Homo sapiens: one gene and its partners. The protein of the gene in region 7 purifies or fractionates together with the protein of the main gene of each other region. This does not show direct contact. Each region holds a gene or a part of one and is shown on either strand. Other genes may lie near its edges.

Region 1 (4,013 bases), on a different chromosome or scaffold from region 7:
TTCCAGAGGCCCCACTGTTCCAGTTTCAAGCCTTCATTTTGGAGTCTGTTTGGGAACTTTTAAGACTTCAAAGCAAAGTTAGCTACCAGCAATTTCTGTAAACCAAGAGAAGATTGTCACAAAGATTCACTACTTTCCAACTGAATCTATGCAGTAGAAAAATCATTAGAAAATACAAAAATTAGCCGGGCGTGGTGGCACATGCCTGTAGTCCCAGCTACTCGGGAGGCTGAGGCAGGAGAATCACTTGAACCCAGGAGGCGGAGGTTGCAGTGAGCCAAGATCCCGCCACTGCACTCCAGCCCAGGTGACAGAGCAGGACTCTGTCTCAAAAAAAGAAAAAAGAAAGAAAGAAAAATGATTAGAAATTGAGAACTATTTTACGTGTTTCTAAGTTGTTGGCTACATCAAAGAGATCATCTGTATTCTGCATATGGGCTGGCTTTGGTGAAGCTGATGACTGGACTTCTAAGAACCGTTTTCCCAAATGGGTTCCCATATTCATGCACCCAAAGCAATGGTCCCCAAGCACTGATGAAAACTAATATGCATTTCCCAAAGACCCACACTATGTATCAGGAGCCTGCACCATGCCATTTGAATGACCCTCAGCAATGTGCCTCCCTGCCCTCAAATTCCCAGTTGATAACAGTGTTTGATTAAATTTCCACTCAAGCCAAACATGGTTACTAAGAAGAGAAAAACCTGATGTTTGCATAATATTTTTTTTCCCCTCGAGATGGAGTCTTGCTCTGTTGCCCAGGCTGGAGTGCAGTGGCATGATCTCAGCCACTGCAACCTCTGCCTCCCGGGTTCAAGCGATTCTTCTGCCTCAGCCTCCCAAGTAGTTGGGATTACAGACATGTGCCACCACGCCTGGCTAATTTTTGTATTTTTAGTAGAGACAGGGTTTCACCATGTTGACCACACTGGTCTTGAACTTCTAACCATGTGATCTGCCTGCCTCGGCCTCCCAAAGTGCTGGGATTACAGGCTTGAGCCACCACGCCCAGCCTAAGATTTTATGATTAAAAAAAATTCAAGCTCAATACCCACATAAATTATAACGTTTCTCAGGAAGTAGTCCCTTAACCAAAACGTCTCTGAGAAGTGATGCTTAGGTAATCTCTGGGATCCGATTTTCCCACATGTCTCACTCCACAGTATGCTAAAGAAGAAAAAGTGAGTGGGCACAACACTTTGACCCTCTGGCTAAGCCCTGGGAGTCCCTGACAGGTCCAGAAACTTCTCTGACACCCATTCACCAGGGTGCTGAGATAGGAGAAAGTGCTCATTTATAATGTGTATTCTGTGCAGCTGTTCTCAGACAAGACCGGATCTTGTCATCTTACCTTTTGCTTTACAAAAAAGGCCTGTTGAAGTCAATGCTGTCTTGCCCCTTGCTGTTTCAGCAGGTTAGACTTTGGTCTTCACTGCTTATAGCTGCATTGGAGGCCAACGTAGCTGATGCTCAGGGTCAGGCCTCGCCCCTTCGCCGCAGGTCTCAGGATCGGGGATAACATCGCTCCCACCCTGCTCATTTAGAGATGGGAAACAAGCAAGAGCTTGACTTGCCTCCCATCCCTCAGCCTGTCTGTGGCAGAGCCTGCACCAAAACCCAGAGCTTCTTCCCTCCGTGAGGGCCACGCTGTCACCACAGTCCTCCCAGATGGGTTTTGGATTAGCATCAGTCCTGTGTCACCAAGTGCCAAACAGCTGAGGGGTAGAAGTGGGACTCCTTTCCCGAGCCCCAGCATGAGGCTGTGGTGTCAGGTTTAGGCCTCTCTCAAGTCAGAAAACCCCGGGCTGAGACCTCCACAGACAAGGGCTCCCCATGCTGGCCATTGGCAGGGGCCCAAGAAGTTCAGTGACCAACTGGTCCTTCCACACCACACCAGCTGGTGCTGCCCATGTCTGTCGAATCATAACGGAAAATTCCCCAGATCACGTTTGGATTTAAAAACTCATCCCTTGTCGTGCTTCAATGCATGCCATTTGTCACTTACCATACTTCACCATGGCCGAGCTTCATGTCACATGGCCTGGCGATTGTGCTTGTTCACACTGGGGCCAGGATTTTCATACTAAAACGTCACTGACAATGGGGCTACTTTTCTCCTGAATAGCTCCTCTGGGCTTGTTGCAGTTCTAGTTTTCCCAGTAGTTCCATGGCAGGTTCAACCTCTCAGTGTCCTGAAAAATGGAACCACCCACTAACCATATGCACTGGCTGCCCAGGTGGCTGCACTCCGGGGATCACGTTTCAGTACTGAGTTCCTTCACGCACTTGGTTCACCACCATCACTCTTGAGTTTTGGACAAAAGAGGTGGGTATGCCAGGCACAGTGGCTCACGCCTGTGATCCCAGCACTTTGGGAGGCCGAGGCGGGCGGATCACCTGAGGTCGGGAGTTCGAAACCAGCCTGACCAACATGGAGAAACCCTGTCTCTACTAAAAATATAAAATTAGCCGGGTGTGGTGGCGCATGCCTGTAATCCCAGCTACTCGGGAGGCTGAGGCAGGAGAATCTCTTGAACCCAGGAGGCAAAAGTTGCAATGAGCTGAGATCGTGCCATTTGCACTCCAGCCTGGGCAACAAGAGCGAAATTCCATCTCAAAAAAAAAAGGTGGGTAAAGGGCCATGAGCCCAAACCACTAGGTTGTTCACCTTTTCATCTGAAAATGCTTTACTCTGACTATGTGCTATTGGGTTTTATTTCCAGAAAATATAGTTCTCCTTTTTTCTGCATGAAGGATACATCGTGGTGCCACATGCTTTAAGCAATTTAAACAAGAGAGATAAGAGGAAAATGCAACCACCACATCTGACTTGCCCAATGTAGACTTTCCTTTATTAGATTGAAGTACACAACCTAATATGATATATTATTTTGTAGTATCTCAGACTTTGTAAATAAATGCCATTATTTTTATATGGAAATTTTATAGAAGAGCTATTTCTGTATACGTAATTACTCCTGATTTTCTGAAATTGCTTCTGGTAGATAACAGACAAGTCCTAAGCAGTGTTCCACTAAGGGTGGTTCCAGGCCTGCCTGCCGTGGAGTTGACTGGGGGAATTTTACAGTTTTGCGATCCTAGGATGCGTCCCAGACGCTCAGTCAGAAGTGCTGGAGGTGGGGCCTGGGAAGCTGTATTTGTAATGAACTCTGGTGTTTTTTGTCCATTAAAGTGTATCTTTGTCCATCCTATAAGATTAAAGGAAAGAAAAAGCATCTCAAATGAGTGTAAGTTGTTCTTGAGAAAAAAATGTATCAGACTTTTATGATTTGAATGAAATGTATTATAGAAAAAAATAAACACTTTAAAATAATGTTAGTCTCATTACTAGTGGGTCAGGATATTTTTAGTTAAAAAAGGAGGTGTTAGGCCATGCGCAGTGGCTCACGCCTATAACCCCAGCACTTTGGGAGGCCAAGGTGGTCGTATCATTTGAGGTCAGGAGTTCAAGACTAGCCTGGCCAACATGGTGAGATCCCGTCACCACTAAAACTACAAAAATGAGCTGGGTGTGGTGGCATGCGCCTGTAATCCCAGCAACTTGGCGCAGGAGAATCGCTTGAACCTGGGAGGCGGAAGTTGCAGTGAGCTGAGATCACACCACTGCAGTCCAGCCTGGGCAACAGAGTGAGACTCCATCTCAAAAAAAAAAAAAAAAGCCTTTTTTTTGTTTTTGTTTGTGAGATGGAGTCTCTGTTGCCCAGGCTAGAGTGCAGTGGTGCAATCTTGGCTCACTGCAACCCCCACCTCCCAGATTCAAGGGATTCTCCTGCCTCAGCCTCTGGAGTACCTGGGATTACAGGCACGTGCCACCACACCCGGCTTATTTTTGTATTTTTTTTTTTTTTTTTTGAGACGGAGTCTCGCTCTGTCACCCAGGCTGGAGTGCAGTGGCGCAGTCTCGGCTCACTGCAAGCTCCGCCTCCCGGGTTCACGCCATTCTCCTGCCTCAGCCTCTCCGAGTAGCTGGGACTACAGGCGCCCGCCACCA
Region 2 (4,204 bases), on a different chromosome or scaffold from region 7:
AAAGTTTTAATGGAATACAGCTGCTTTTATACTACAACAGCAGTCAATTAGTCGCAACAGAGAGCCATCTAGCTCTCTGCAAAGTCTAAAACTATTTACTATCTGGCCTTTTACAGAAAACGTTTGTACAACTCCTGCACTGTATCAATACCTGACAGTTACTTATTTAAGTAAATACAACAACCCTAAATAGGAATCCTATAAAAAAAACTTCAGGAAAATAATAAAAATAGGCCATAAAGGTCATATTACAAAGGACGAAGACCAAAGTCTAGAATATAAATTCCAGAGACTAAATATTTAATTTTTGGATATAAAAGCAACTCAAGGCAAAATGGTACTAGAATATGATGGTATTTTCCAGTTTTTCTCCAAAAACAAAAACATCTCTCTATATGCAAGTGAATAAGTTCTCCTCTAGTTCTAAGGTCACCCATTCCCAGTTTCTGATTAACATCTACCAGAGAAGCTACAACCACCTCACATAGAAAACGTCATAGAAATTGACTGAGGTCAAATGGGAGTAGTGGTTTCGGGATTTTAAAAATCTAACTCGGTAGGGACTCTCAAGCACCTATCCCCCAAATATTTAAGCCAGCCTTCCCATAAAACCAGACAAGTCTCAAAGAATAAAAGCTCAATAAATGATGCTTGATTGACACAGCCTAAAGAACTACTAAGCCATTTAAGTCATAATCTTAAACCTAGGCATCCAATTAAATGTATTATGCCTTAGTGCTCTTCTGAAAAAGCTTCTGTCTTTAATAAATCATTTAAATCCTTTAGGTTTCAGTCACAACAAAAATGGGCTCACCACCTTTTCTACATCATCAACCTCCTCACTCTGGTAGTCAGAAACAACATCCACAATTTCATCAATAGAATCATCAGTTTTCTCATTATCATCTTCATCATCTTCTTCCAAATCCAAAACAGTGAAGTCAGCACTGCTTCTCCCACCCTTCTTCTCTTGCTTTGGTTGTATCTGTTCTCCAGGTAGCAGTAAGTGACCCTGAAAATGTCCATTCCCTCTGCTGCTTTTTGCAGCTCTCCTAGGAACAATGGAGAAGGCTGAAGGATTAGAAATCCTACTCCAAGAATCACATTCAGTTTTCAAAACTCTGGCATCTTCAGTAATTCCACTTTTTCCAAGTAAGTCAGAGATGCCTTGTTCTTGCTGAAACACATCTGAATTTTCCTGACATGTCTTTGTTTCTTTAATTAACTGCTCGTCTGCCTCTTTCTTACATTCCTGTGAAGCTCCAACACATTTCCTGGTTAAGGGGCCCTTCAGATGTTTTCTCCATCTTTCCCTGTCTTTCTCCAGAGAGTCTCCACATTCCTTCTCTTTGGCCTCTGGCTGTAGATTAGATTGCTGCTCCATAACTTTGCTTCCTGACAATTCAAATTTACTTTCTTCCTTAAAGGTGACTGGAAATTCACTTGAGTTTTCTTCTGGATTGTCAAATCCTTTCTGCTGTTCCACCTTCACATCACCAAGTTTTTGATGCTGTACTTTACTTAAATTTTGGACTGTCTTATTACTGGCTTTTTCAGAAATGGTCCTAACTTCCAGAACAGCCACTTTTTCTTTGGAACTCTTACGATTCCTAGCCCCATATTCTTCATTAACATCTTTATAATCTTGATCTGTATGTGACCCAGTGATACAGGAATGCTCAGATGGTTTGACAGTTGCACAACCTTCTTCTGGAAGGCATTCTTCATCCAAATGATCACCCCTATCTTCCAAGGAATCATTCAGAGTTTCTTCTGAGGTAGCAGCTCCTGAGTTTTGTTTTATTACATTAGCCTCAGGGTCTACAGCCTCTCCTTCTGACTGTAGAACCTTCTTCGTTTCTTGCTCTCTTTTTATTGAGTTTGTTTCATCTTTCTGGTCTGGATTCTGAGATTCTCTCTTCATCTGAAGGGAAGCAACATGCTGAAGAATGGAGCTAGGAACAGGCTTTTGTCCTGGGAGCTGTAACAAGGCAAAACTACCAGACTGGAGAGGAATAAGACTGGCTGTACCAACAGGCTGTCCTCCTGAGCTATAAGTTATTTTGGTTTCAGAGCCTGTTTTACTTGCAAAGCTTTGTGGTTCAGGAGGAGAAATCCTCAGGGTCAATGTACCAGCCTGAGACACAAAACTAGCTCCAGAGGAAAGCAATGATGGTGCCTGAGTGATAACATTCACTGCTGAAGAAGACCCAACAGCTTGAATTACAGGATTCATGACAGAGAAAGCAGAGGACGAAGTGGAAGATGGCGGAGTCTCAGAGGGTTTGGAAGGAGCAGGTAACCGGATTCCCATCACAGACCCTGGTTTAAAAAATAAGAGAGAAATTTTTAAATCATGACTGCCCATATCAAGACTTCCAATGTTTGCTTTTCTTTTTGGAAAAGTAACTCTTAAGAGATGAAGAAAAACAATCTTGGTGTATTAACATACCATATGGCCAAGTGATTCAACAAAAGAAAAGTTCATAAAAAAGAACTTTATACCTGGGTTCCGAAACATGACAGGCTGTAAGTTGGGCTGGGTATTAGAGCCTCGAAGCTGATGCAAAGGTAGAAGCTGGACAATCTGCCCATTAGGGTGCCTGAATAAGTTCATTCCACTTGGACTCCTAACAGGCTGCAAGACCATCCGATGTCCCTGAAGTTGTGTGTTTGAGACAGGTCTAAGAGTAGGAGAACCCTGCTGCACTGGAATCAACAACAATCGAGGTCCAGCACGTTTCACTGTGTTAGGAGAGACCTGTGGAGTAGCCACTGGAATTTGAGCAGCATTTTCTGAAAAACAGGAAATGGAAACATGGTACCCAAATTCCCCTTTAACACACGTAGGAAAAAAAAGTATTCATAATATTTTTTAAGACACAGTCTTGCTTTGTTGCTCAGGCTGGAGTGCAATGACACAACCTCGACTGACTACAACCTCCGCACCTCCCTAGTTCAAGTGATTCTTCCACTTCAGCATACCGAGTAGCTGCGACTACAGGTGTGCACCAGCACACCTGGCTTATTTCTGTATTTTTGGGTAGAGACAGGGTTTCACCATGTTGGTGAGGCTGGTCTCAAACCCCTGACCTCAAGTGATCTGCCGTTCTCGGCCTCCCAAAGTGCTGAGATTACAGGCGTGAGCCACCGCGCCCAGTCTATATTTTTTTTTTTTTAAAGAGGCAGGGTTGCACTTGTCACCTTCAGTGCAGTAGCTCAATCATAGCTCACTGCAGTCTCAAACTCCTTGGTTCAAGAGATCCTCCTGCCTCAGCCTTCCAAGTAACTGGGACTACAGGGATGTGTCACTACACCTGGCTAATTATGTTATTCTTTGCAGAGACAGGGTCTTGCTTTGTTGCTCAAGCTAGTCTCAAACTCCTGGCCTCAAGTGATCCTGCCATCTCGGCCTTCCAAAGTGCTGGGACTGCAGCCATGAGCCACCATGCCCAGTCATTAAGGCACAGAATCTGACCTTGCTTCAAATAACGTCTAATTTGGATTATAAAGTTGCTGAAATTCTGTAGTTTCATAATACACTATTTATGGCTGAGAACAGCCAGACATTATGGAGCTTTACATTTAGAATGGTAAAAAATAGAGTATCAACTGTCAAGAGGCACATTTAAAGAGATAATACTTTTGCCTAAAGAAAAACATGGTTATCTCTCTAAATCTGGATTCCTGTTAAAGGGATCATTCATGATAAAATTATGCTTCAACTTCATTCTTTTGAGACAGCATCGCACTCTGTCACCCAGGCTAGAGTGCAGTGGTGGGATCACAGCTCACTGCCACCTCGAACTCCCAGGCTCAGCCTCCCAAGTAGCTGGGACCACAGGTGCACGCTTTTTTTTTTTTTTGTGGAGATGGAGTTTGCTATGTTGCCCAGGCTGGTCTGGAACCCCTGGGGCTCAAGCAATCCTCCTGCCTTGGCCTCCTAAAATGTTGGGATTATAGGTATGAGCCAATGTGCCTGGCCTCTTATGTTTTTAAATAAAATCCAGATTCTGCACAATTTAACTTTAAAATTAAAGCTCATAACACTTACTAGAGTTATGGGTCAATTTCTAAGCTTATACCACCTGAGGAAGATAAAGAACTAAAAATCCTTGGTTTATAAAGGGCTTTTGGTTTTTAAAATTCACTAACAAATATGCAAAGCTTAAAGGTTTGTGGGAATTATTTTTCAGAAGGAAAA
Region 3 (4,204 bases), on a different chromosome or scaffold from region 7:
AGGTGATCTGCCCACCTCGGCCTCCCAAAGTGCTGGGATTACAGGTAAGAGCCAGTGTGCCCAGCCAAGATAATTAACTGTGGCATATTAAAAACCTGAGCTGGAGTCCTGGCTCTACCATTTACTAGCTATGTGACCTTAGGCAAATTAACCTTTCTAAATGGCCTCATCTATAAAACAGGGATAATGATGATTCCCATTTCTGAGTTGTTGTGAGGATAAATTAAATTACGTCATCAGTGTTGTAAGCACTCAATAATGATGGTTTATTTTGGTGGTAGTAGTATTTGCCAATGCTAATAGTTGTAATTTGCTACTTGTGTGTTAATTTTGGATGGGTGTTGTATCTTTTTTTTTTTTTTTTTTTTTTTTGAGATGGGGTCTCGCTCTGTCGCCCGGCTCAAGTGCAGTGGCACGATCTCGGCTCATTGCAACCTCTGCCTCCCAGGTTCAAGTGATTCTTCTGCCTCAGCCTCCTGAGTAGCTGGGACTATAGGTGCATGCCACCATGCCCAGCTAATTTTTGTATTTTTAGTTGAGACGGGGTTTCACCATGTTGGCCAGGATCGTCTCCATCTCTTGACCTTGTGATCTGCCTACCTCGTGATCTGCCAGAATGCCCAGCCGGGGTGGTGTATTTTTATATTTAAAAAAAGGGGGCCGGGCATGGTGGCTCACACCTATAATCCCAGCACTTTGGGAGGCCAGCGTGGGCAGATCACCTGAGGTTGGGAGTTTGAGACCAGCCTGACCAACATGGAGAAACCTTGTCTCTACTAAAAATACAAAAAATTAGCTGGGCGTGGTGGCACATGCCTGTAATCCCAGCTACTTGGGAGGCTGAGGCAGGAGAATCGCTTGAACCTGGGAGGTGGAGGTTGCGGTGAGCCGAGATTGCGCCACTGCACTCCAGCCTGGGTAACAAGAGCGAGACTCTGTCTCAAAAACGAAAAGGAAGAGAAGAAAGTTGCTGATTTGGTTCCTATGGATCTTTGATGTTCTCTGGGCAAATAACTCACTGCTATTTAGTCTGTCATAAACATGATGTGCTGTCTTTTATACATGAAGATAATAAAATTGATTCCTTTATTGGAAGTTCTACAGACCTTTGGCTAAAAGTACCACAGCTCAAAGTTTTTCGTAATCTGCTTTATGATTATTACTTTTTTTCTTCATGGGGATTGGCTGTACATCTCTTAAATGGTTCTTTTTGACACTTTAAATGGCGGAGGATGGCCAGGCACGGTGGCTCACGCCTGTAATCCCAGTACTTTGGGAGGCCGAGGCAGGTGGATCACCCGAGGTTAGGAGTTCGAGACCAGCCTGGCCAACATGGCAAAACCCTGTCTCTACTAAAAGTACAAAAATTAGCCCGGCTTGGTGGCAGGCGCCTGTAATTCCAGCTACTCAGGAGGCTGAGGCAGGAGAATTGCTTGAACCCAGGAAGCGGAGGTTGCAGTGAGCTGAGATTGTGCCACTGCACTTCAGCCTTGGCAACAGAGTGAGACTCCGTCTCAATAATTAATTAATTAAGTAAGTAAGTAAATGGCCAAGGAGGGTTTGAGAATCTTCTTTCCAAATAAAAATTTCCCTGGTATGAAGCTAGTTGGTCAAAGTTGTACCACAAATGCTATTTGATCTGCAATTGCTGAGATGTATTACTCTAGAAACTCCTTTAACTTTAATTTGGGTATTTAATGGATTTTTAAAATGGGATAGTACACTCATATTAGGACGTAGCTCATTGGAGATTTGAATGTATTTTACAATATGTTAATATTTAAATCTTTATTTCCTTGTGTGAATCAGCAGTTTTCAAGTCTGTCAATGAGAGGAAAAAAATCTGGGTAGAAATAAGATCAGATACATCAAAGATTACAAATTTTATTAGAGGGCGTTGGAAAGGAGTTTCATGTGATTATGTGACTTAGTGTTGCCTGAGTGCAAGATACTTGTGGATTGAGACGAGAGTAAGAATGTTTGCTTCTAGTTTTGTGTTCCCATATGACTTATATTATAGATTCTTGCAGGTTGAGGATGTGTTAACATGATTTAACCCAGATAAGCTTCAGGAATATTCTTCATTCAATTATATATCAATTTAAAAATTGTCATTTTGCCATTTGCATTTTTTTTGAATTTTTTTCTTACATCTTTTGAAACCTAGTAACTTGTTCATTTTTCAACTTTTATTACAGTGCCTGATCAACTTTCTAGCGGGAGAACGATCATGGAGGTGGTGCCAGCTGAGGTGAATAGTTTGCTTCCAGAGGAAATAATGGACACTGGTATAACTTTAGTGGATGATGATAGTATTGAGGCTGTTATTGTTTCATCCCCAATTCCCATGGAGACAGAACTGGAAGAAATTGTCAACATAAATTCTACTGGTGACTCTACAGCCACGCCCATTTCCACGGAACCAATCACAGTGTACAGTAACCACACTAACCAAGTTGCAGTGAATACCACAATTACTAAAGCAGATTCTAATACCACAGTGAAACCAGCTTTTCCAAGTGGCCTTCAAAAACTTGGTGCTCAGACTCCTGTGACTATATCAGCCAATCAGATTATTTTAAACAAAGTATCACAGACATCTGATCTTAAACTTGGCAATCAGACCCTTAAACCAGATGGACAGAAGTTAATTTTAACAACTTTGGGCAAGTCTGGTTCACCAATTGTTTTAGCACTACCCCATAGCCAACTACCCCAGGCTCAGAAAGTTACAACTCAGGCCCAGTCAGGAGATGCTAAGTTACCACCGCAGCAAATTAAAGTAGTTACCATTGGAGGGAGGCCAGAGGTGAAACCTGTCATTGGTGTCTCAGCATTGACCCCAGGAAGTCAACTGATTAATACTACAACTCAGCCCTCTGTGTTACAGACCCAACAGTTAAAAACAGTACAGGTAAAAGAAAAAAGGGGGCTTACTAATTAAAATGCATGTTTAAAAAAATTTAACTGATTCATAGTTGTGTTTATAGGGTTACTAAATACATAGTTGTTACTGAATTCTTTTGAATGTTGTTTTATGTAATTGTGTGTGTGTGTTTTTAAGTTTGATATGTCTAATGCTTATGAAAATTTTTACCAGATAACTTAGAAAGCAAACTTAATTTTGGTTAAATTCCAAATTAGTATATTTATAGCCTTTTACTAATTTTAAAATGCATTTTATTCTTAGTGGTAGTTTGATTACAAGGATGTTTTGCTGGTATAAATATGCCAGACTTGCTGCTGGGCTATCAAAAAAATCATGTAGACAACATTTTTTTTTTTCAGTTCACAGATGGCCAAAGGCTAGGAGAACTTTGTTGCTCTGAGAAACCCTCAGAGCCAGTAATAGTGCGTGTCAGCCAGCGTGTGCCTTTTATTTGGAGTTTACTGTTCATTGCCATTATTCATGTTTGTACTATGGAAAAGACAGTGACATGTGATGGAAGATAACATACAGGCTTTAGAGTTGTACCAACTGGGCTTGAGTTGCCTCTATCTTATCCTACCAGTTATGGAAAACTTTCGTAGGTTACTTATCTTCTCTGAGTTTTTGACTTTATCTTAAGAATACTTTTTGATCAAGATGAAATGTGTAGTATAATTCTCAAAATATTGAGGATGTTTCATAATGGTACCTATTATTAGTATGAATAGGACCCTAAGAAAGAAGGTTACTGGAATATATATTAAGTGATTTCCAGTTTATCATGCCCAAATAGGCTTTCTTAGGCCACCACTACTCTTGGAAATGCAGTGATCGGCGGGGCGTGGTGGCTTAAGCCTGTAATCCCACCCAGCACTTTGGCAGGCTGAGGTGGGCGGATCACCTGAGGTCAGGAGTTTGAGACTAGCCTGCCCAACATGGTGAAACCTCATCTCTACTAAAAATACAAAAAATTAGCCAGGCATGGTGGCGAGTGCCTATAATCCCAGCTACTCAGGAGGCTGAGACAGGAGAATCGGTTGAACCCGGGAGGCAGAGGTTGCAGTGAGCCGAGATCGCGCCATTGCACTCCAGCCTGGGTGACAAGAGCGAAACTCCATCTCAAAAAAAAAAAAAAAAACAAGAAATGCAGTGATATACTTATGACCAGGAAACAAAAATGTATCCTCTGTTTGAAAGAGTTGTCTTTGAATGCATAGAAATAATAGGAAATGCATAAGAAGGAAGTAGGAAGGTTTTGGGAGACTACACTCAGCT
Region 4 (4,204 bases), on a different chromosome or scaffold from region 7:
TTTGAACTTTCACTACTAATCATATGTAATTTCCTTTTGCAGTTCTTTTGGTCATCCATAACTATGGTAATTCTTCAAGTTCTTATGCTGCTATCACCTAGGGCAAACCCTCTTTTCTTCGTATATTTTGATTTTTGAATAAAAAACACCAAACCAAATCAATCTATTTATACTTATTAAAATCACAAAATCATTTTCTCCTATCAATTGTAATTATAAAATGCAGTTTCTTTTTTTTTTGAGATGGAGTCTTGCTCTGCTGCCCAGGCTGGAGTGCAATGGCATGATCTTGGCTCACTGCAACCTCCGCCTCCCAGGTTCAAGCAATTCTCCTACCCCAGCCTCCCGAGTAGCTGGGACTACAGGCACATGCCACCACGTCCAGCTATAAAATGCAGTTTTTAATCCTCGAAGAGATCTAAACTGTAAATCCTCATTTTGTAGATGTGGAAACAAGAGGTCCAAAGAGTACGTCATGTTTATTTTGAGTCCTTCACATATCTTTTTCACCATACTGAACACAGAGAATTGTAATTATTTCACATTAGAGTATGAAATTTGCAGAAATGCCATTACAAATATATCTTAATTGACACAAACTTGATCAACAGGAAAGCTAATTTAAAAGCTCTGTGAAAATTATTGAATACAGTGAATCAAAAGAACATTCTGTAAATAATTAATATTCAGACAAAATCTCCTCTAACATATACCTCCAAATAAATGAATGAAACACAGATTTTACCCACCTCCCGTATGACTTGCTGCAACTCATCTTGCTCCACATTTTTATGCATTTCCTCAGCAGCTGGCATTGATGGGAGTTTTCCATGCCCTTCTTCCACTTCAGATTTAGGTCCTACAACTTCTGGGGCTCCTTCAGCTGCATCAACTTCCTCAGAACTTTCCAAATCTGGAGGTGTCTGCACAGAGCCTGTTCTAGAAGGAGCTGTTGGCGTTAGAGCCACCGATGCTCGGAACACTTTCTTCCTTGCCACTAATGGGGTTTTGGATTTGCCCACTGAGGCAGTAGAAGGTACTCCAGTTCTTCTGTTAGCATGAGAGGGACCAGAACATACAGAAGATGATTCTGATGTTGCTTGGGAAAAAACAGATTCTGAGCTTTCTCCAGGAGGAATTTCAAATCCCATTTCTCCAAGTCCCAGGCCCAATTCAGACTTCAGGTATGACTGCTCCTGCATCAGTTCAGTGACCTGGAGATCATAAAAAAATGTTATTCTTCTCTCTTGGAATTAAGATTGGTAGCTAAAAAGGTTAAAGTCCTGGTTGTCATTATTGCCTAAAATCATGTAATTTGTAAAGACATAAATCTATTCCATTAATTTAATAACTACTCAATTTTATTTGCAAAAATGGTAAGTAAAATTTAAATTCCTATTGAGATGAAGCAACAAAACAGGTAAACAGAATACATAGTAGGATGAAATTTTACTTGTTACCACCAAAGTGTCCAAATCACTTGTAAGGAAGAGTAACTAGTGAAAAATAGTTACTCATAGTGCTTTTGCCCCCAAATGAACCAATCTGTCTAACACAATAAAGACAGATTTCTGTTAAAAACGTGGTCATGTTACAGCTCTAACTACCTAAAGAACCAGGATCAAACTGTGAAAGCACATGTCTCCTGAAATGTAAATTAAAAATCAATTTTCTTTTTTTTTTTGAGATGGAGTCTCACTCTGTCACCCAGGCTGGAGTGCAATGGCTTGATCTCGGCTCACTGCAACCTCCGCCTCCCGGGTTCAAGCAAGTCTCCTGCCTCAGCCTCCCAAGTAGCTGGGATTACAGATGCCTGCCACCATGCCCAGCTAATTTTTGTATTTTTAGTAGAGATGCGGTTTCACCATGTTGGTCAGGCTGGTCTTCAACTCCTGACCTCAGGTGATCCACTTGCCTCAGCCTCCCAAAATGCTGGGATTACAGGCATGAGCCACCACACCTGGCTTATTATTTTTTAAAGACAGGGTCTTGCTCTGTCACCCAGGCTGGAGTGCAGTGGCACAATCATAGCTCACTGTAGCCTTGAGCTCCTGGCCTCAAGCAATCCTCCCGCCTCAGCCTCCTGAGTAACTGGGACTACAGGCACATATCACCATGCCTGGCTGATTTTTAAATTTTCTGTAGAGAAAGGGTCTCATTTTGTTGACTAGGCTGGTCTCAAACTCCTGGCTTGAAGCAATCCTTCCACCTCAACCATTTAAATAAAGTGCTGGGATTACAGGCATGAGCCACTGTACATGTTTTTATGGTGCATTACCTCCTTTAGTCAGAAAGATAAATCACTATTGCAATTCAGGTGGCTTTCTAGTGGCTTCAGACAGCAATGGACTTTCAAAGGTGAAAGTCACTTCCAATCAACAATAATTTATCAAATTATGTATTTAAAATAAACATATATTTCATCTAAACTAGGGAAACTATGTGTCTGAAATGTTGTATCATTCCCTTCCCCAGTGATTTAAGAGGAAAGAAGCTTACTGGTTCCATTACATTCAATGGAGAAGGGCATGACAAGTTATCAGCGCTTCTACTGCCACACATTCCCTGAAAAGGTAAGAACAATATATATATGTATATGTGTGTGTATATATACATACATGCATATATAATTATAATGTACATATATATTTTTTCAAATCACAAGACTTTTATAATAAAATTAATTGGCTAATTAGTGCCTGGAAGCATCCCTTTATGTCACAAAGGTTACTCTCAAGTGTCACAGATCCCATAAAATGCATTATTGTGAGTTAAAACTGATACAATATGCAAAAAGGATGTTCTAGTTCTCCCGTCACCAACATACACTTCTCAGAATGATAAATCAAAACCATGTTGAAAAGTACATTCATTAGCAATACAGAACATCCTTAGTCTATGCTATACATATATGTGTTTATACACCATTGTTTATTCTACTTCATTTATAGTATATACACACATAATTGTATGTGTGTATATTCATCCATTTCTTTTTAACAAAATCAAATACATTGTTAAGGTAACAAAGAATAATTCACTATTTCAGCATTTCAAAGCAACATATTCTACAACTTCAAAGATATTTGCAAAAATAATACAACTGTTGAAGTTCAAATGTTATGGAAAGAAACATTAGAAGTATGAAAAGTGGTACAAAAACATGTTTCTTTTTATTCTCTTGGATATATATCTATATATTTAGGAAAATACATATATGTATGTGTATGTATATATATGTATGAAAATATACAGGTATCATTTGATTCCTTTAAAAACAAATGGAAAAGAATCCAAAATAAAGAAAAAGTTTAAAAGGAACACTTTTTTATTTAAAGGCATGAAAGAAAAAAAAACAGCAAAATATGCATCTGTGTTCTCTGCAGTTACATGCAACAATTAAAATTTACATTAGTCATATGTTAATTCACTAGCATTTTTCCTTTAAAAACCCTCAACTTTCGTATAAGCCCTTATTCTTTCCTGTTATTAAAATTTATCATTAAAAATTTTCAACATATTTCTAAATATACTATTTATGACAATTATTACAAATTGTACATTCAACTGATTTGTGGGAAAGCTCCTTAAACAGTATGCATGCTTTTAATACCATTAAAATAAATGACTTGAAATGAAGGCACACGTCCTAAATTATTGGAACATTATAAATAAACCTTTGGTGAAAACTCCGACCACCCTCCAGGTAGCGTACCATGAGTGCGGAGGAGCGGAAGGGTGAAGGCATGCGCACAGCACGAAGCTGCTCCTCCAGGCCCAGCAGGCGCTCCTCCAGCTGCAGTTCCAGGTCCTGAAGTTCCATTCGGACTGAATTTCTCAAACCCTGGAGCTGATCAACTTCAAACCTATTGGTATGGTGAAGGGCACAAAATTGGAAAAATGCAGTTTGGAGATTCCTAATCACAAATCTTTCAACAACTACTATATGCTAACAGAAGGCATGGAAATCTCAGGTTCTAGAAATTAGTACAATATCAACTACAATAGGTGTATCCACAAGGACATTAGTCTTTCTTCCCCTATCCTCTCACAAATATCTCAAACACGGGAAAGCAGGTTACCACTACCCTTAGGATATTGAAGGCATACAAGTTTACTTAGTAAAACACTATCTATGACTAATCTTATCTACACTGGTTCACAAAACAGATACAAGGTACACAGCAGTAGAATCAAAACCTAA
Region 5 (4,204 bases), on a different chromosome or scaffold from region 7:
TTAAACCAAATTATCTTTAAGAAAAGTGGCCAGGTGCCTTGGCTTACTCCTGTAATCCTAGCACTCTGGGAGGCCAAGGCGGGCAGATTGCTGGAGTCCAGGAGTTCAAGATTAGCCTGAGCAATGTGGTGAAACCCCGTCTCTACAAAAAATTTAAAAATTAGCCAGGTTGGCTGGGTGCGGTGGCTCATGCCTGTAATCCCAGCACTTTGGGAGGCTGAGGCGGGTGGGTCACGAGGTCAGGAGATAGAGACCATCCTGGCCAACATGGTAAAACCCCGTCTCTACTAAAAATACAAAAATGAGCCGGTGTGGTGGTGGGTGCCTATAGTTCCAGCTACTCAGGAGGCTGAGGCAGGAGAATCGCTTGAACCCGGGAGGTGGAGGTTGCAGTGAGCTGAGATCGCACCACTGCCCTCCAGCCTGGGCGACAGAGTGAGACTCCATCTAAAAAGGCCGGGTGCGGTGGCTCACGCCTGTAACCCCAGCACTTTGAGAGACCAAGACGGGCGGATCACGAGGTCAGGAGATCGAGGCCATCCTGGCTAACACGGTGAAACCCAGTCTCTACTAAAAAATACAAAAAAATTAGCCGGGCGTGGTGGTGGGCGCCTGTAGTCCCAGCTACTCGGGAGGCTGAGGCAGGAGAATGGCGTGAACCCAGGAGGCGGAGCTTGCAGTGAGCCGAGATTGCACCACTGCACTCCAGCCTGGGCGACAGAGCAAGACTCTGTCTCAAAAAAAAAGCCAGGCATGGTGTAATTGGACTGTGGTCCTGGGAGATGGAGGCTGCAGTGACCTGACATCACACTGCTGCATTCTAGTCTGGGCAACAGAGTGAGACCCTATCTCAAAAAATTAAAAAGTTAGGTGAGGCTGGGTGCTGTTTACACCTGTAATCCCAGCACTTTGTGGGGCTGAGGCAGGCAGATTGCTTGAGGTCAGGGGTTCCAGACCAGCCTGGCCAACATGGCAAAACCCTGTCTCTACTGAAAATACAAAAATTAGCTGGTCGTGGTGGCTCACGCTTGTAATCTCAGCTACCTGGGAGGCTGAGGCAGGAGAATCACTTGAACCCAGGAGGCAGAGGTTGCAGTGAGCCAAGATCACAACACTGCACTCCAGCCTGGGCGACAGAGTGAGACCCCATCTTAAAAAAAAAAAAAAAAAGAGTTATAAATAGTATTCCATTAGGCACTTGCACTGTGATTAGAATTACAGCACAATTCTTGCAGTAGCAAAGATGTTATAAAAACTCGTTCAGAAAACATACGTGCTTCTCTGGTGGCGTTTTACAGCCGTCTTGACTTGGAGACGTTTGTCAGCCAGGCCAGGTGGGAGGGCTGGTCCCATGCGGGGGGTCCAGGCTGCGTCCGCCGCTAGGGCCGTGGCTGCTGTGCAGGTCACCCCAGAGGGGCTGGGATAGCTGGGCGTGGCCTCCCAGGAGCTGACTGAGGTCCTACCCAGTGTGGCGGGGGCCTTTTCCTCCTTGGGACCCTGCTGTTCTCAGGTGGTACACTGGGGTCTGGAAGGGAGGGAGAATGGAGACACAGGTTGAGGTTGGGTGCACACGCCCGCCTTCTCCCCTGGGATAGACGCCACGGGCGTCCAGAGCTGCAGGATTTGCTCCATTTGTGAAGTGCCCTCCTGGAGTCCCGAGGGGTGGTGTGGTTACACCTGCAGTCCCTGGACGGCAGGGTCCGGCCTTGGAGCCCCTCCTGGGAGCTGTGCAGCCCGGGTTTGGTCGCGTTTCTCAGACGCCCCTGCCTTGCTGTTACAGACGGCCAATGGGAACGTGGAGGCCAAAGTGGTGTGCTTCTACCGGAGGCGGGACATCTCCAGCACCCTCATCGCCCTGGCCGACAAGCACGCAAGTGAGTCCGGCCTTCCCTGGGGTGCCCGCCTGGCGGGAGGGTCGGCTGGGGAGGGCTGGCGGGGTCCTTCTTCCCTAGGGCCCATCGGCATCCTGGCCTCGTGGGGCCACCCTCTGCCCAACTCACTCTGGCGTCTCTTTTTCTCCCTTCCACAGTGGGCGGGGGTGTCCTGGCTCCGTTTCCTCGGGGGCTGGGTGAATGAAGTCCTCGCACGCCCCCCGGAGTGGTCTGTCTCTCACTGGCATCCTCTGCAAGCTTGTCATGGTGTGGCTGGGTGTGGGCATCATTGATCGAGGCTTCTTTTTCCCTTCTATGATGACTTCTGGAGACTTTCCAGGCTGGTGGGACCCTGCTGCCTGCACTTGCCAATGTCTCTCTCTTTTTAATTTTGCGGAGAGGCTTCTGTTGGGATTCTGAGTAGTGTTTTCAGGAAAGCAGTCCTCTCCTTATTCTTTACGATTCAAACCCAAGTTTAGTAACCTGGCTGGGAGGGGCTGCTGTGGCCAGCACAGCGTGTGGGAGGAAGCCACTGGCTGCATGGGAATGCCCTCAGCCTTGGGGACCCAGCTTCTCCCCCGGGAACAGGTGCTCGCAGGTGGTGGAGTCTCCTGTGCCGGGGGATGTTGACTTCAGAGCCAGGAGCCAGAGGCACCCCCACGCCCTCCACATGCTACTGACACAGGGCCTGCCGAGCTGGGCCCCACCTGCACCAGACACAGTGTGGTACCCCACTGAGGCCCTTCATGTGTCGGTGGGGGCAGGCATGAGGGGCATTTTTGGCTTCCACTCTGACACATCACCTGGGGTGGGATCTGAGCCCAGGCTGAGGCTGTGGTCTGTAGGGTGACATTTCCCAGTAGGTGAGGCATGTGACTGCCCGGGTACCCGTGTCGCTGGGGTGGGCCAAGGTCCCACCTGTAACCTCCCACGACCCCTAATGGGGTGAGGTCCAGGGACTGTGGGTTTGCGGTGGGTCGGGTGGGAGGACCCTCGCATCTTCTGCCCCGTCCCAGCGCTGTGGGTGAGGGGCAGGAAGTCAGCCCAGGCAACCTCCCCCTGCTCTGGGAGGGGCTTAGGGACAGGACAGACCATCCTGCCACCGATGCCTTGTTCCTGAGCCTTTGCTGGGAGTCGGCCAGGGCAGGCGCTTGTGGAAGGAAGGTGTCCCTTAACCCCACTGCCTTGCCCACCGGACAGCTGGGACCTTTCCTCAGCAACCAGTGGATGCGGACGTGAGCTGCCCTGGGTCAGTGCAGCTGGGCCGGGCCCCCGAGCCTGGGTCCACTCTGGACACTGGGCTGTGGGGCCTGTGGCTGGCCCAAAGGGAGCTGCCAGTTGACCATGGGCTTTCTCTGGCTTTGTGAGGAACTGGACCTCCTAGCTCTCTGCTCAGAGGAGGGGAGCGTTCAAGGTGGGGCATGGTGATCCTTGACCTCTGACCCCAAAGCCTGTGTACTCCACTGCTGCACTCGGCGGGCTCCAGGCACCAAGGAGGAGAGCTGGGGATGTTGAAGGTCCACAGGCTACACATTCTGGAGGGGTGTTTGGTGTGGCCCTTGGCCCTGCAGGTGCTGGGTGCCAGTCAGCAGCACGGCTGGCGGTTCTTAGTGTTGGAGGCTGGCCTATGTCGACTCTGCAGGGCTGGCCCGCTGGAGAAGCAGTGGTGGGGAGCGGCCTGGCTCGCTGGAGAAGCAGTGGTGGGGAGCGGGCTGGCCCGCTGGAGAAGCAGTGCCCAGGCTGAGCGGCCGCAGTGTGGCCCTGCCAGTCTGTGTGGCCTGGGGAGTCAGGCGCCACCGTTGAGTTGGGCATGTTTATGGCTGGCCCAGGGTGGATCCTGTCTCTGTCCTCTGGCACCTGGGGGCACAGTGTCCCTGCTCCAGAGAGCCTGTATCAGTGGTTTAGTGGTTTTTGAGGGTACTGTGGCCCCCTTGGCTGAGGTTCTGCTCTCAGACGCCCCAGAGGATGGCCTTTTGCTGGAAGAGCCCCAGAAGGGGACTCCAGACATAACGTGATTAGAGGTATCAGAGGGCAGGTTTTCCAGAAGGGCCTCGTTGGGGCTGATAGGACTGGGTGGAGAGCAGTGTCCCAGCTCGAGCACTGGCCCCCCCAGGTACACAGCACAGCCCCTTTGGACGGTGCTCCCTGGAAAGCTGCGTGGCGGCCCCTCTGCAGGGCGTTCCTATGAACTGAGAGCCCAGCTGCAGGGAGCAGGCGTCATGGGTGATGGGTCTGCCGCTGGTCCAGGGACTCAGAGCGCGGCCCCACTCTTGCCTGGCGGCTGGGCCTTGCGGTGATTCTGCAGGGCCCACACCCCCCGGGGTTGTGTCAAT
Region 6 (4,204 bases), on a different chromosome or scaffold from region 7:
CAATACTAATTCTTTTTTTATTGTGAGAAGAGAATGCAAGGAAAGGAGCTTCTGTATCAAAGAATCGTGACTTTAAGGTATATAACATGGATTGGATTGGGAATGGGTTATATCTGTAGTAATAGGGTCTGAATTATCTGCTAGCCTAGGTTAGATGGTTTTAACTTCTTGGTAAAGGAAGTAGAAGGAAGAAAGTGAGTGAAAAAGAAAAGGACGGAAGTAGCAAATTCTATAACCATAGGAATCCTACCTTTAGGCTTCCTGGGGCTGTTAGGCACACGGAGCCTCTTGGCCACACAGAATGTCTGCCACTGAGGCTGTTTGCATCTTAATGAAAGAACTTTTAAATATATACATATTGTTCTCTGCACGTTATGTAATCTTCAGGTAACCCTTTAGGTCACTGAAACGTTGGTCCCAAGGGAACCTTCAGACATTGATGGATTAGGTATCCTTAAACCTTTGAAGAAAAGTAAGAGAAGTTATTACTTCTCTGACTGTAGCTATTGATCCATGCCTCCAAATTCCCAAAAACATACTTCTGAATCATGTTCCTTCTTTATACACTAGAAGATCATCAAGAATCTGTAAAATGATACAGCTAATTAGATAGTCACTAAGATCCCTTCTGGGCCTTAAAACGATGTGATTTTTCTCTACTTAAATATAATTAGCAGCTAAGCTGTGTTAGGCTCTAGTTATACCACTCACATTTTTAATACTGTATCTAGACATGTTTATGCTTTGTTTTGAATTAATCTTGAGGCCAAACATATTTAGTGCTTGTTTTTATGGTGTATACAGTATAATAGGGTTTATATACCTAATTTATGTAACTATACACAAATTTCTCTGTGCTCTATTTTTTCCTCCTCTGAGAGGGATGCATAATCAGTTTTGGAGACAAGTGGTCCAGAAAAAAACACTCAAAGACTGTATACAGATAAAACTATATAAATACAAAAGTTATCAAGATTAGGCCAGGTGTGGTGGCTCATGCCTATAATCTCAGCACTTTGGGAGACTGAGGCAGGCAAATCACCTGAGGTCGGGAGTTTGAGAAGAGCCTGGCCAACATGGCGAAACCCCGTCTCTACTAAAAATACAAAAATTAGCCAGGCGTGGTGGCAGGCACCAGTAGTCCCAGTTACTCGGGAGGCTGAGGCAGGAGAATGGCTTGAACCCAGGAGGTGCAGGTTGCAGTGAGCCAAGATAGTGCCATGGGCAACAAGAGCGAAACTCCGTCTCAAAAAAAAAAGTTACCAAGATGATACCTCCCAACGTACTCCTTCTTCAGCAAATTATAGAAATTCTACTTGGCAGCCAACGATTGTCAGATTTTCTTAGACTTGTATTTATGAGTAGTACCAAAGTCTTTTGCTGAATAACCTTTAATACAACTACATGGGTTCTTAGCTGTGGTATAAATCTTTATTATCCGTGAAATAGGTAATAATTTCTTTGGAGGCAAATAAGTGCTAAATTAATTATAGCAGCAGTTCATAAATACCAGTAATACTAATTGCACAATAAAACATGACTAAATAAGACTGAAATTTTCCTATACTTCTCTTTCCCCAGAAATCTTTTGCCTCTCTTTTCTTTCAAATTTTACCTCATCAGAGATGCTTTCTCCTATTACCTAAGTCCCTGTTATTGCCTTATTTTTCTTCCTTTTGGTTGTACCATATAACTTTTGTCTCTCTCCTCACTATAACATAAGCTTCATTAGGACAGTCTGTCTGTTTTGCTTGTGTTTGTATCTTCGCCAACTACATTTAAAAACGTAGCTTTTTTTTTTAATTAGTGATGAATAAATTATTAATTCCTTATACTTTTTTTTTTTTTTTGAGATGGAATTTTGCTCTTATTGCCCAGGCTGGAGTGCAGTGGCGTGATCCCAGCTCACTGCAACCTCCACTACCCTCCCGGGTTCAAGTGATTCTCTTGCCTCAGCCTCCCAAGTAGTTGAGATTACAGGCACGTGCCACCACCCCTGGCTAATTTTTGTATTTTTTAGTAGAGATGGGGGTTTTACCATGTTGGCCAGGCTGGTCTCGAACTCCTGACCTGGGGTGATCCACCCACCTCAGCCTCCCTAAGTGCTGGGATTACAGGCGTGAGCCACTGTGCCTGGCCAATTCCTTATTCTTATAGATAGAACGCTTTCATATAACGTTCCCTCTAATTCTTGAAACTACTCTGAACTACATTTAGGTAGGATGGGTGGCATTTTGGCATTTTTGGTATTGTTTAGATGAAAACAGATTCACATTTGTTTGGTGCAGTCTACCACTTTTCCTTTTCCACACTGACTGTAGTTTTAATGTTCAAGGAGAGTTCAACATCCGGAATCTTTATTTTTCTTTTTTCCTTTTCAAAGTGTTTCCTCTGCTACCAAACAAACAAAACTCCTTAACAAAAACTTTAAATGCTTCTGTTGACAAGTCCTTAAAGGAAAACACTTGGGATTGGAGAAGGCATCTCTTAGGGAATGTTAATAAATTCAAACTTGGAAGAATTCAAATCAAGTCTAAGGATTTTTTTGTACTGGTTATTAAGCCTTATTCCTCTGTATTTCAGTAGCAGTCTGCTTATTGTTACTTGTTCATTAAGCCAGCTTTGGGTTCAGACATATCAAATAGGCTTAAAGTTCCTACTGTGTGCCAAATAGACAAAAGATTGCTCAAGTCCTAAGAAGGAAATAAAAGACTGCAGGTATAAAGTAAGAGAGGGGGCCGGGTGCAGTGGCTCACGCCTATAATCCCAGCACTTTGGGAAGCCGAGGCGGGCAGATCACAAGGTCAGGAGTTTGAGACCAGCCTGGCCAACATGGCGAAACCCTCTCTCTACTAAAAATACAAAAAAAAGTTAGCTGGGCATGGTGACGGGTGCCTGTAATCCCAGCTACTTGGGAGGCTGAGGCAGGAGAATCGCTTGAACCCGGGAGGCAGAGAGGTTGCAGTGAGCCGAGATCATGCCATTGCACTCCAGCCTGGGTGGGTGGCAAGAGCAAGACTCTGTCTCAAAAAAAAAAACAAAAAAAGTAAAAGAGAGGGGACCTTTGATAGTGTAATCAGAAAAGGGAAGACCTGAAGGAAGAGAATGGGCCAGCCTTAAAAAGAGTTTACTACATAAGATATTACAAATAGCAAAGCCAGATAGTTATTAATAGAACTTGGTGCACTTAATGGGAAGGAAGACAAGGAAAATGTGGAGTCCCATGTTAGGCAGTAAAAAGTGGGACTGCACAAAACTGTGTAGTAAGAAATTTGACTTTACCCAGAGGTGGAAAGCCATTGAAAGTTTCTCAAATAGAATGCATTCTCTCAAAATAATTGGTAAGGAGTTGTGGAATATAGGCTGGAAGCAAGAATTGAACACATATTGGTCCATATAAAATGTAATGGTTGCATTTTAGATAGAAATAGACATATTTAAGAGAGATTTGGGCCTCAAACCAATAGAACTTTTTGATGGATTAGAAATGGAGTTGGAGCTGAGGAATGGTGTTAGAGAATGAAGGATGACTCCTAAGTTTCTGGATTGAGCAGTTAGGTGGTATGTGGTACTACTCACTAAGATTGGGAATACAAATAAAGAGCTCTGTTTTGAACATCTTATATTTGAGATCCTTATTGAATTCAAGTGAAAAGACTGAGAAGAGAGTTAACCTCTGTGAGTTTATAATCCAGAGAGGAGAGTCTAGACATAGAAATTTGGGATTTCTCAGCTTATATCAGGTGAAGTATTGAGACTGAAAAAGATACAGCATAGACAGACGACTGGTCCCAGGACTTAACTCCCGAGAGAAGAGAATTTAGGGCAGAACTATTGTTCACTGATGAACCCAAACCCTTAGAACAGTACCTGCTTGGCACATGGTAGGCTCTTGATTTATTAAATGAATGGCTGAACTGAAAACCCTTGATGTTTAAAGGTTGGTGGAGGAGTGGCCTTGGGGTACAAGTAAAATCCCAAGAAAATGGTATTATGGAAGCCAAGGCTCCGAATGTCTCAAGGAGGAATAACCTCCTTGAAATATGTATTAAAGATGTGTTAATATGTATAAAAAATGGATAGTGGGCTAAGTAGTCTGGAAGATGAAAATAATAAACTTTTTTCTTTTCTCTTGTTTTTTTTTTCCTGAGTCTCTTTTTGCAGTCAACTTATCTTTGTGGCTAAAGGTACATTTCACAGTTCT
Region 7 (4,204 bases):
TACAGGGCAAATCCCAGTTCTACAGTTTTTAGTTGTATACCTTTAAGTAAGTTACTAAAATTTCTGAGCCTTTATAAAAAGGAATTTTTTTAAAAATCAAATTTTTTAAGATCGTTAATTGGACTGAGAATGTCAAGCCCTTAGCAAGTACTCCCAAACCATAGCTATTAATATTACCAATATTATTCTTAGCTCTCGGAAGAGAGGGATCTTTCGGTGCCTTAAGTAAAATCTACAAAATGGGGAAACAATGGTAATTGTCTCACAAAGGCGACAGTGTATGAAGCAGTAAGCAGAAGGATCTGGGACACAGCAATTTCTAATAAACATCGGTGGTGCTCAAACTTCGCTGCACATTAGGATCACCTGGGAGCTCTTCCAATCTCTGTCCAGGCTACACACCATCCCAGTTAAATCAGAACCTTTCGGAGTAGGACCCAAGCATCAATATATTTTACATAATATTTTCCCCCCAGGCTGGAGTGCAGTGGCACGATCTCGGCTCACTGCAACCTCCACCTCCCAAGTTCAAGCGATTCTCCTGCCTCAGCCTCCCGAGTAACTGGGACTACAGGCGTACAACACCACGCCTGGCTAATTTTTGTATTTTTAGTAGAGACGGGGTTTCATCATGTTGGCTGGGATGGTCTCGATCTCCTGACCTCGTGATCCGCCCGCCTCGGTCTCCCAAAGTGCTGGGATTACAGGCGTGAGCCACCGTGCCCGACCAGCATCAATAATTTTTAAACTTTCCAGGTGATCCCAACATGCAGGCAAATTTGGGAAGCAGTGTTGCAGATGCTGGTCCCAGCTACTGGGAAACAAGGTAAGATGAGGCCCCTGAGATGAGGTTCCAGCCTCAATTCCGCCATTCTCCTCCTACAGAGCCACACTAGGTATGTCATTCTACCTCCTTGGACCTCAGTATACTTATCAATAAATGTGTGGGTTCAACACCACATCCAAGAATCTTTCCATCTCTAAAGATTCTATAAATATCAGTAATTTAGAAAATTGGCAAGACTTTCTAGGTAGCTGCCTGTGACATGGAGTCCGAGGAGGCATGGTCTTCCTGAAGCCACCGTGGCTGGTGAACCTTGGGCCTGTTTCCCAACTTCCTTTGAAAGGATTTATAAAAGTGTGGGGTGAAGACCAAGGGTGTCAGACTCCCCCATAGTTCTTGTTTAAAATGTACTGAATACACCAGACTCTGGGGGATGATGGTAGGTAATGGAGCGTAGCTTCAGGAACCTATAATTTAAAAAGCTCCACAAATGGATTCTACTGTCCTCTGAAGTTTGAGAACATAATAAATACCAGCTGGCCACAAGCAAGGACCTTTTCAAACTTTCCTGGCCCTGGCCTTCAGTCACTTGGTGGTTCCTGTCTCAGCACCAAAGGCACCGGGAAGGATCCAAGTGATTGCCTCTCACCTGTAACCTAGCCAAGATACTGGCTTTCTTGGAGTTGGAGGAGTAGCTCCTGGAGCAGGAGACGCTGCAGAACCTCTTGGTCTTGGAGAAGAAGGCTTCCCTTGTACCCACGATACCACACATCTCACAGACAGCTGGGAAGAGAACTTAGCACATGACTCACCCGATATGACCACCTCAAAGCAAACAAAGTGATGGGCCCTTCAAAACCTGGGGCACTGCATTAACCAGGTGAGCCCCTGCCCCCACAAAGGCTAATGGAATAAGAGGAGGAATGGGAGGTACTGGTGTGTATATCCTGAATCTACCTGAATGAAGTGCTGCTGCTTGGCCTCCCTTGGCTACAGATGTCAACAGAGGGGCTAATGGAAATCCATGAGGACGACTGGGGGAACAGGTGAGTGTTGAAAAGTTTGTCAGAGGAAAGTGAGAAGAAACTAGGCATGGTAGCTCCTGTCTGTAATCCCGGCAGTTTGGGAGGCCAAGGAGGGAGGATTGCTTGAGGGCAAGAATTTGAGACCATCCTGGGCAACATAGCAAGACCTTGTTGCCCAAAAAAAAAAAAAAAAGGCCAGGTGTGATTTGGCGGGGGGAAACTGCCTGAGCCCAGGAGGCTGAGGCTGCAGTGAGCCATGACTGCACCACTGTACCTCTAGCCTGGGCAACAAAGTAAGACACTGTCTCAAAAAAAAGCGAAAAAATTTATAGGAAGAAAAAGTGCCAAAGTCACTTAACCTCTGTGGCTCTATTTTCTCATCTATATAGTAAAGGGACTGAACTAGATCAGTGTTTTATTTATTTATTTTTGAGACGGAGCCTTGCTCTGTCACCCAGCCTGGAGTAGTACACTGGCGCAATCTTGGCTCACTGCAAGCTCTGCCTCCCGGGTTCACGCCATTCTCCTGCATCAGCCTCCCGAGTAGCTGGGACTACAGGCACTGCCACCACACCCAGCTAATTTTTTTGTGTTTTTAGTAGAGACGGGGTTTCACCATGTTAGCCAGGATGGTCTCAATCTCCTGACCTTGTGATCCGCCGTGTCGGCCTCCCAAAGTGTTGGGATTACAGGCGTGAGCCAATGCGCCCAGCTAGATCAGTGTTTTAATCGTGACTTCACTTTTTTTTTTTTTTGAGATGGAGTTTTGCTCTTGTTGCCCAGGATGGAGTGCAGTGGCGCCATCTTGGCTCATTGCAACCTTCGACTCCCGGGTTCAAGGGATTCTCCTGCCTCAGCCTCTTGAGTAGCTGGGACTACAGGCATGTGCCACCACGCCTGGCTAATTTTTTATATCTTTAGTAGAGACGGGGTTTCGCCATGTTGAGCAGGCTGGTCTTGAACTCCTGACCTTGTGATCCTCCCGCCTCGGCCTCCCAAAGTGCTGGGATTACAGGCGTGAGCCACCATGCCTGGCCCGTGACTTCACTATTAGACCCACCTGGGGAGCTTTTAAAAATGCCTGAGATGGCCGGGCGCGGTGGTGGGCGTCTATAATCCCAGCTACTCCGGAGGCTGGGGCAGGAGAATCCCTTCAACCTGGGAGGCGGAGGTTGCAGTGAGCTGAGATGGCACCACTGCACTCCAGCCTGGGCAACAAGAGTGAAACGCTGTCTCAAAAAAAAAAAAAAAAAAGCCTGAACCTAAAATTCTAATGAATTGGTCTGTGACGGGATACTGGTACCTGTAGTTTGTTAAAAGCTCCCCTAGATGATTCTAATGTGCAGAACCCCTGGTCTAAGTGGTCTCTAATGGTTCCTTCTAGTTCTAAATCCTAAGATTCTAAGAGAAGGGCTGGAAGAGGATAGAAGGGAGAAAGATAAAAGGCAAGGGATGAAAAGAAGACAATATAAATAGAAAGGAAGTAAGGCCGGGAGCGGTGGCTCACGCCTGCAATCCCAGCACTTTGGGAGGCTGAGGCGGGCGGATCACGTAGTCAGGAGATTGAGACCATCCTGGCTAACACGGTGAAACCCCGTCTCTACTAAAAAATACAAAAAATTAGCCGGGCATGGCGGAGGGCGCCTGTAGTCCCAGCTACTTGGGAGGCTGAGGCAGGAGAATGGCGTGAACCCGGGAGGCGGAGCTTGCAGTGAGCCAAGATCGTGCCACTGCGTTCCGGCCTGGGTGACACAGCGAGACTCTGTTTCAAAAAAAAAAAAAAAAAAAAAAAAAGGCCGGGTGCGGTGGCTCACGCCTGTAATCCCAGCATTTTTGGAGGCCGAGGAGGGCAGATCACAAGGTCAGGAGATCGAGACCATCCTGGCTAACATGGTGAAACCCCGTCTCTACTAAAATACAAAAAAAATTAGCCGGGTGTGGTGGCAGGCGCCTGTAGTCCCAGCTGCTGGGGAGGCTGAGGCAGGAGAATGGCTTGAACCTGGGAGGCGGAACTTGCAGTGAGCCAAGATCATGTCACTGCATTCCAGCCTGGGTGACAGAGCAAGACTCCGTCTCAAAAAAAAAAAAAAAAAGGAAATAAGATTCAACTGCAAAGAGTATTAGATTACTCTTCTAACGAGTTTGGGGCTGGGTGCGGTGGCTCATGCCTGTAATCCTAGCACTTTGGGAGGCTGAGGTGGGGGATCACTTGAGCTTGGGAGTTCAAGACCAGCCTGGGTAACAGGGCAAAACCCCTGTCTCTACAAAAAAAAAATACAAAAATTAGCCAGGCATGGTGGCGTGCACCTGTAGTCTCAGCTACTCAGGAGGCTGAGGTGGAAGGATTGCCTGAGCCCAGGAGGTCGAGGCTGCAGTGAGCCATTTTCACACCACT

Evidence for each region.
Region 1: the proteins of L3MBTL2 (region 7) and TFDP2 purify together in Homo sapiens (affinity purification with mass spectrometry; 3 studies listed by BioGRID and IntAct, with this or other methods). This does not show direct contact.
Region 2: the proteins of L3MBTL2 (region 7) and MGA purify together in Homo sapiens (affinity purification with mass spectrometry; 4 studies listed by BioGRID and IntAct, with this or other methods). This does not show direct contact.
Region 3: the proteins of L3MBTL2 (region 7) and LIN54 purify together in Homo sapiens (affinity purification with mass spectrometry; 4 studies listed by BioGRID and IntAct, with this or other methods). This does not show direct contact.
Region 4: the proteins of L3MBTL2 (region 7) and ITPRID2 purify together in Homo sapiens (affinity purification with mass spectrometry; 2 studies listed by BioGRID and IntAct, with this or other methods). This does not show direct contact.
Region 5: the proteins of L3MBTL2 (region 7) and MTA1 purify together in Homo sapiens (affinity purification with mass spectrometry; 2 studies listed by BioGRID and IntAct, with this or other methods). This does not show direct contact.
Region 6: the proteins of L3MBTL2 (region 7) and HDAC2 purify together in Homo sapiens (affinity purification with mass spectrometry; 3 studies listed by BioGRID and IntAct, with this or other methods). This does not show direct contact.

Annotation. Positions count from the first base shown.
Region 1 is NC_000003.12:141,943,750-141,947,762, reverse strand, and holds the end of TFDP2 (transcription factor Dp-2), read left to right. Parts: 3' UTR 1-2,724; coding exon of another isoform or gene 2,725-2,753; 3' UTR 2,754-3,335; downstream 3,336-4,013. UniProt on the Homo sapiens protein: Can stimulate E2F-dependent transcription.
Region 2 is NC_000015.10:41,747,229-41,751,432, reverse strand, and holds part of MGA (MAX gene-associated protein), read right to left. Parts: intron 2,797-4,204; coding exon 2,506-2,796; intron 2,323-2,505; coding exon 818-2,322; coding exon of another isoform or gene 815-817; intron 1-814. UniProt on the Homo sapiens protein: Functions as a dual-specificity transcription factor, regulating the expression of both MAX-network and T-box family target genes. Functions as a repressor or an activator.
Region 3 is NC_000004.12:82,982,871-82,987,074, reverse strand, and holds part of LIN54 (protein lin-54 homolog), read left to right. Parts: intron 1-2,198; 5' UTR 2,199-2,230; coding exon 2,231-2,914; intron 2,915-4,204. UniProt on the Homo sapiens protein: Component of the DREAM complex, a multiprotein complex that can both act as a transcription activator or repressor depending on the context. In G0 phase, the complex binds to more than 800 promoters and is required for repression of E2F target genes.
Region 4 is NC_000002.12:181,918,958-181,923,161, reverse strand, and holds part of ITPRID2 (protein ITPRID2), read right to left. Parts: intron 3,867-4,204; coding exon 3,716-3,866; intron 2,566-3,715; coding exon 2,500-2,565; intron 1,215-2,499; coding exon 750-1,214; intron 1-749.
Region 5 is NC_000014.9:105,443,638-105,447,841, forward strand, and holds part of MTA1 (metastasis-associated protein MTA1), read left to right. Parts: intron 1-1,780; coding exon 1,781-1,874; intron 1,875-4,204. UniProt on the Homo sapiens protein: Transcriptional coregulator which can act as both a transcriptional corepressor and coactivator. Acts as a component of the histone deacetylase NuRD complex which participates in the remodeling of chromatin.
Region 6 is NC_000006.12:113,964,203-113,968,406, reverse strand, and holds part of HDAC2 (histone deacetylase 2), read left to right. Parts: intron 1-4,204. UniProt on the Homo sapiens protein: Histone deacetylase that catalyzes the deacetylation of lysine residues on the N-terminal part of the core histones (H2A, H2B, H3 and H4).
Region 7 is NC_000022.11:41,211,256-41,215,459, reverse strand, and holds part of L3MBTL2 (lethal(3)malignant brain tumor-like protein 2), read right to left. Parts: intron 1,831-4,204; exon of another isoform or gene 1,568-1,830; coding exon 1,434-1,567; exon of another isoform or gene 757-1,433; intron 1-756. UniProt on the Homo sapiens protein: Putative Polycomb group (PcG) protein. PcG proteins maintain the transcriptionally repressive state of genes, probably via a modification of chromatin, rendering it heritably changed in its expressibility.